2 linked regions of the Homo sapiens genome follow. The protein of the gene in region 2 purifies or fractionates together with the protein of the main gene of each other region. This does not show direct contact. Each region holds a gene or a part of one and is shown on either strand. Other genes may lie near its edges.

What was found. Proteins that work in one complex are often made in the same cells at the same time.
Region 1: the proteins of SLC7A6OS (region 2) and EAPP purify together in Homo sapiens (affinity purification with mass spectrometry, with the first as the bait; one large-scale study listed by BioGRID). This does not show direct contact.

Annotation. Positions count from the first base shown.
Region 1 is NC_000014.9:34,522,702-34,526,354, forward strand, and holds part of EAPP (E2F-associated phosphoprotein), read right to left. Parts: intron 2,107-3,653; coding exon 1,996-2,106; intron 1-1,995. UniProt on the Homo sapiens protein: May play an important role in the fine-tuning of both major E2F1 activities, the regulation of the cell-cycle and the induction of apoptosis. Promotes S-phase entry, and inhibits p14(ARP) expression.
Region 2 is NC_000016.10:68,297,401-68,300,966, forward strand, and holds the end of SLC7A6OS (probable RNA polymerase II nuclear localization protein SLC7A6OS), read right to left. Parts: 3' UTR 634-3,566; downstream 1-633. UniProt on the Homo sapiens protein: Directs RNA polymerase II nuclear import.

The DNA.
Region 1 (3,653 bases), on a different chromosome or scaffold from region 2:
GTGCTGCCTGTTCCAAATGAAGTGGGGGGTGGGTCCCAAAGAGGATAGGGATATCCCAGTAGGATGGGAATGCTGGCTAGGGGTTCACACTTGGGACCTGGCTTTGTCTCTGGCTATCCTTCTTTGTCTCTGGCTATCCTCAGGGATATTTTTTCCTTCAGGCACTCTCAGTGCTTCCTATGAGTTGAGGCAGGGACAGATCTCTTACCAGAGAACTCAAAAAGGTAAAGAAGCTGGTTGTACACTTCCATCTTACTTTTTCTAATGTAAAAATCATGAGCTCAGGGGAATTTTTCTGCTCACTTGGTGCCAGGCAGATTGTGGAGAAGGATAAGCAGATATGGAAGAACAATTCTCTTACTGTCTGCTTTAAGTTTTTTTTACTTCTCTGTGGCCCTAGAAACTGTCTCCTCCTTATATTGAGATCTGGGATACTGGTGGTGATAGCTTCAGTGCTGTATATTTGGTTTTGGTATTCTGCAGGGGGAAGGAGAGCCAGTTTGCTTCTATGCTGCTATTTTGCACTAGAAAAGATACCTTTTTTTTTTTTTTTTGAGACGGAGTCTCGCTCTGTTGCCCAGGCTGGAGTGCAGCGGCGTGACCTCGGCTCACTGTAAGCTCCGCCTCCTGGGTTCACGCCATTCTCCTGCCTCAGCCTCCGGAGTAGCTGGGACTACAGGCGCCCGCCACCATGCCCGGCTAATTTTTTGTATTTTTAATAGAGACAGGGTTTCACCGTGGTCTCGATCTCCTGACCTCGTGATCCGCCCACCTCGGTCTCCCAAAGTGCTGGGATTACAGGCGTGAGCCACCACGCCCAGCCCGTTTTTTTTTTTTTTTTGGAGAGAGAGATGGGGATCTCACCTTTGTTTTGTTGCCCAGGCTGGAGTGCAGTGGTGGTCACAGCCCACTGCAGTCTTGAATTCTTGAGCTCAAGCCATCCTCTCACCTCAGCCTATCGAGTAGCTGGGTCTACACGCATACATCACTATACTCAGCTAATTTTTTATTTTTTTATTTTTTGTAGAGATGAGGTATCACTATGTTGCCTAGGCTGGTCTCAAACTCCTAGGCTCAAGTGATCGCCTTAGCCTCCCATAGCACTGGGATTACAGGCATGAGTCACTGTGCCCAACTTTAAAAGTATAAAAGCTACATTTAATATAACTATATATAATCAAAATTAATTGTATAAAGATTAGTCACACAGCACCAAGAATCTAAGTACAGAACTTTATCAGAATTCCTGAGTACCTCAAAAGTCTGTTTCTGGGCTGGGCACAGTGGCTCACGCATGTAATCCCAGCACTTTGGGAGGCCGAGGTGGGCAGATCACTTGAGGTCAGGAGTTCAAGACCAACCTGGCCAACATGGTGTGACCCTGTCTCTACTAAAAATATAAAAATAAGGCCGGGCGTGGTAGCTCACAGCTGTAATCCCAGCACTTTGGGAGGCCAACGCAAGTGGATCACAAGGTCAGGAGTTCAAGATCAGCCTGGCCAAGATGGTGAAACCCTGTCTGTACTAAAACTACAAAAATTAGCCGGGTGTGGTGGCAGGCACCTGTAATCCCAGCCACTTGGAGGCTGAGGCAGAAGAATCACTTGAACCTGGGCAGCAGAGGTTGCAGCGAGCCAAGATTGCACCACTATACTCCAGCTTGTACGACAGAGTGAGACTTCATCTCAACAAAACAAAACAAAACTATATCTATCTATCTATCTATCTATCTAGATCTAGATCTAGATCTAGATACACACAAAAACTAGCCAGGCATGGTGGTGGCCGCTTGTAATCCCAGCTACCTGGGAGGCTGAGGCAGGAGACTCGCTTGAACCCACGGGGCGGAGGTTGCAGTGAGGCGAGATTGTGCCACTGCACTCCAGCCTGGGCAACAGAGTAAGACTCTGACTTCAAAAAAAAAAAAGTCTGTTTCTAATTTAAACAAAATATGTATGTGTGTGTGTGTGTGTGTGTGTGTCCTTCATCCATTACCTTTGGCAATCAAGGCAAAGTGTGGTCATGCAGGCAGGACAATTCAAGACAGCATCACTATTTGGAACAGGCTGTTGTTGACGTGATCTCTGTGGTCCCAAACCATGGTAACTAGAACAGAAGAAGAAAGTGGGGAGAAAAACATATTAAAACCAGATCTTGGTTTCTAGTGTCATTTTCCAATAAAAAGAACCAGTACTATTCAGAGAAATGGCTAATTCTAGGAATAAGGAACACAAGATGAACCTGGAGCATCTTTTAGTGCCAGAAAAGAAGGAAGTAATCAAGAAAACAAAAACAAAACAGTGAGGTGGTTATGACAAAGGGAAACAGGAGCCAACTGAACAAGTCACCAACTGCCAAAGCTGAAACTGAGCAACAAAATAAAGTAGGACTGGATTACAACCCAAAGTATAAATACCCACGAATCCACGCTAATATAAATGTACTGAATAAATAAATAAATGGAGGAGAACAGACAAATCCCCACACAGAATTCTAAATAATCTATAAAGATGCTCTTCCCTCACAGTGGTGGAGTATAACTCCCTAGTCCTTAAGTCTGGGTTGGACACAGTGACTTCCTTCCAAAGAGTACGGTATGGTAAGGCGGGGTAAAAGACTAACTTTACAGTAGAGAAAGTTAACACTGGTCAGCAAGGTGATCGAGGTCAATACCAACACACAAAACTCAGGTTGGTAGTATGTACTCTTGATATAATGTGAGGAAAATGGCTCTCTACTTCTATGTTCTTACTTATAAAAATCCATAATCCCATCCTAATTATGAGAAAAAACAACAGACAAATTCCAACAGAGGGGCCTCCTACATAGACCTGATTAGTGCTCCTCAAAGTAATTAAGGGCACTGAAAACAAGGAAAGTCTAAGAAACTGACAGAGTCAAGAAGAGCCCAGGGAGACATGACAACTAAAAGTGATGTACTATCCTACACGGGGTCCTCAAACAGAAAAAGAACAGTACATAAAAACTAAGGAAATGTTTTAAAATTATGGACTTTGATTAATAATAATGTATCAAGGCCGGGCTCGGTGGCTCACGCCTGTAATCCCAGCACTTTGGGAGGCCGAGGCGGGCGGATCACGAAGTCAAGAGATCAAGACCATCCTGGCCAACATGGTGAAACCCCATCTCTACTAAAAAAATACAAAAATTAGCTGGGCGTGGTGGCACATGCCTGTAGTCCCAGCTACTCAGGAGGTTGAGGCAGGAGAATCGGTTGAACCCAGGAGACGGAGCTTGCAGTGAGCCGAGATCACGCCACTGCACTCCAGCCTGGGCGACAGAGCGAGACTCTGTCTCCAAAAAAATAAAAAATAAAAAAAATAATAATGTATCAATATTAGTCCATTAATTGTGACAAGTGTACCAAAAATAAAAGTCCATGAATTTTTTAAAAACAGTAAAGCTACATTAAAAAACAAGCACACAGGCTGGGCATGGTGGCTCACGCCTGTAATCCCAGCACTTTGGGAGGCTGAGGTGGGTGGATCACAAGGTCAGGAGTTCAAGACCAGCCTGGCTAACATGGTGAAACCCCGTCTCTACTAAAAATACAAAAATTAGCTAGGCATGGTGGCGGGTACCTATAATCTCAGCTACTTGGGAGGCTGAGGCAGAGAACTGCTTGAACCCAG
Region 2 (3,566 bases):
CCCAACTCTCCTGAATTAAAGGAGCCTTTTGACCCAATCATATAGTGGGGCTCAGGGCCAGTGCTCACTCTTATTGGTAAGCTATAGGAGACTCAGGATCTGGGCCAACCTCAAGGTGGGGGCTTCAGAGGGTGGGGGGAAGATTGGGGAACGGGGGGAATGGTCATTTAGTTTTACTCCTGATAGGTAGATGCAGCTCTTACAGATATTTACTTGGTAAAGTGCAGTGGGGAAGAGGGAATGCTAGGTTGATAGGGCTGGTGGCTTCTGAATTTGGTATTTGAACTAGGAGTCCCTATAGAGGGGCTGCTTTATGGGAAGTTTTTCTCTGACCAGGTACAACACCTGACTTTAAAGGCCTGAAATGCTACCATTTCTTCCTCTGGCTCAAAATTCTTCCCTGGGGAGAGAGTTATATTCCCTTATTTATTGATATTTAGTCCAGAACACCAGTTCTAACGAAGCATGCGTGTCTCTTCATCTACAGGATGCAATAGGCTGATTGTATTTAAAAATCAAAGTACCCAAAACTGAGTCCCTTTGGGCTCAGAAATGTCTGTGGTATTGGGTCAGACTCTGACCACAGGTTTTATGCTGTTTAGCACAATTTCTATTGAGTCTTACCTGCAACAATGAACCTTAAAGATTTTTTTACTCACGTACCTGTTACACTTTAGCATACAGATAGATCATAGATCACGTTACAAGCACTTGGCTCAGGTCCAGCAAGGACAGATGAACAAATTCCTGAGTCAGAAGTCTGTTAATATTGCTGTTTTGAAGGACAATCCTTTATTTTACTTGAGACCTTACATCTTTGTTCTAGCTGACAGTAAATCTCTGGGTTTCTGTTACGAACTCTAAGAGGGCTGAAACTTCTGATATTCAGGTGGATCACCTGAATTCTCTCAGCTGTCAATGGCTTGGAGAACATCTCATGGGCCCAAGTCATCAAATAACCTGTTCCTCTCTGTAAGGGCAGTGTGAGGGACTGCTGTGCAGACCCAAGCAATCCCAACCTGGTGCTAGGTCATTTCACTTTTCTGAAAACCTCACATCAGGCTGCATCCTCTTCTGTCCCTGGCACCAGGCTTTGTTTACACTTGGAGCCACCTTGGTGTGGGTCACCGGGACAGTGTACTCCTCTCCTGCCAGCCTCCCCTTCCCCGAGGTGTGGTGGCTGCAGTCTCAGGAAGAGCTTGGTACTTGTGGGGACTTCTGTTTTCTCCCTGTGGAGATCAGTGAAGACTGGGAGGAAAGCTGCTTCAACCTGAGTCCGGCTCTTCAGCAGGCTGCACAAGTGGAAGCAACTAATTCTGGTGCTCAGGCTGGGCTCTCCACCCAAGTTAGGCCTGCTCTGGCCTAATGGATCTTACTGTATGAGCAGGACGGCTGCATTGGATTGTACAACTGTTTTGTGATGCCCCCAGACACTGTCATCCTGGGCCGAGAAGAACCTGCTAGCTTGACATACCCCATGGGCTTATCCTTAGGTTTTGGAATTGGTCAACAGTGAGGCAGTCTCCCTTCCTGACCATTCTTCTCCACCCAGTCACAGATAAGGGAATAACCTTGGCCATATATTTGCTCAATAAAGATTGAAGGAAGCATGGTCATAGTTGCCCTGGGTTCAGAGCATAATGCATATGTGAAGCATGGGGTGACATTCCTACTGTCATGGGTTTGGGATTTGTAACGGCAAATTCCTGCCCGACGACAGGGTGTCTTATGCAAAGGCTGACTTGCCTGAACGCTAAGAACATGACTTCTGTCTGAGCTAAGCTGGCACCCATCCCAGGGCTCCTCTGGAGCTAATCCTTTAAGCAAAATGTGCTTGCCTTTTAAAGATCCCTGACCCCAGCTTTAGCTTTCTCCACCAGATAACCAGCTAATCCCAGGAATTTGCTGCCCCCCACCAGTGGCTTCTAGGGAAAGCAAGGACCTCACATGCCAGGTGCCCTAGTACTTGCTTAGTGAGCCATGTCATCCTCCTTTCATTTTTGGATGGTGACAGCATTTTTCCCCTCTGTGCTGGATACAGACTTCTCCCAGGATCCTCTCTTTGGGAGCGAAGCCAGAGGATCCCTACAGCACTCAAGCTTCATGGTGGAATTAATTTCTGCCAGCTCTTTGTTGTCTGTCTCCTTAAATCCTTTTCCTGGTGTGCTTATTATCCCTTTTGCAGTGAGTACAGTTTATTAAGTTGTCAGCCCTTTAATATTGGGGAAACTTAATGAGTATAAATAGCAGGGAGCACATTGTAACAGCACAGTGTTTTGTTTTTTTCACCCGGTTGCTGTATGAGAATGGCTTTCAATCCTTTGTTTCTATGCCTACAGACAGAAAGCAAGATGTCTAATATTAGACATACAAGTTGCTGCCTGTTATAACGGTGAATTATACCTTTGTGCATGCCTAGGATGTTTGTTGTTTTAATTAGCTGCAATATATACGGCCTGTGTACACAGAATTTAATCACTTCGGCAGGTTGAACAACTCCATGTAGATAAGAGCAAGTGTAGGCAAAGGTTTAGAAAATGGACATAAAGTCAAAGAATGATGGCAGGTAGGATGAAGGAGAGATACTTAGGAAATCCTAAAAGAGGCGGCAAGAAGGTACCTCCCTGTGTAACTCACCTTCCCCCATGACAGTGAGTAAGAGACACTCACAGGCTATGAGGGTACACCCCTAGCTGAATGTTCTGTGTTGTTTCCTTAGACCTGTGGTGTCCGCTGCAACAGCTACTAGCCACGTGTAGCTAATTACATTAAAATGAAATAAAATTAAAAGCTCAGTTTCTCAGTTGCGCTAATCACATTTCAAGTGCTCAGCAGCCACCCGTGTCTACTACTACACAGTGCAGACACAGAACATATCATCACTGCAGATAGTTCTACTGGACAATGTTACGCTAGAATAAACACCAAGGCAGTCAGTTAAGGCAGCTATGGTTTGGAAAGGCATACGGACAGAGTCTGCTTAGAAGAGATACAAGTTGTTAATAAAATTGATCCTGTTGATAGTAGTTTGTTTTTGTGGTGGGTGCTGTGAAGAGTAAACATTACTCAGTGGAAAGCTAAGTTCAGAAGGTACTTTGTTTTTCCTCCCTTGCCTTAAGTCCTTGGTATTTATAATCAATGCTGAACCTTCTATTTCACTACCGCTCCCTGTTTTAGATATTCAGATTTAAAAGGTTTTCAAAGAATTACTTTCTTCCATGTTCAAAGCTAGATTTTACTAAACACATGTATCACATTCATATATATTGTTTCTTGGCCCCACTGCCAAAGGAAGTCAGTCAGTAATTTCACAACCGTTATCAGAGTTTGGAAGCAGAAATAGCTGTTAACTAAAATCTCCCACTGCTCAGACTACTTTCTGCCCTAATGGCCATTACTATCCAGTCTGTATTGCTACAAGGGACCCACTGGTACCCCTTTTAGATTCTATCAAAAGGAACAGGGTTTTCCTAGAGGCAGGCAGCCTGGTGGTATGGCACAGCAGAAGCTTACTGCTAATGAAATGGGAACCTCCCCCTCCCTTGTGGTTTCAGCACAGAACCTGA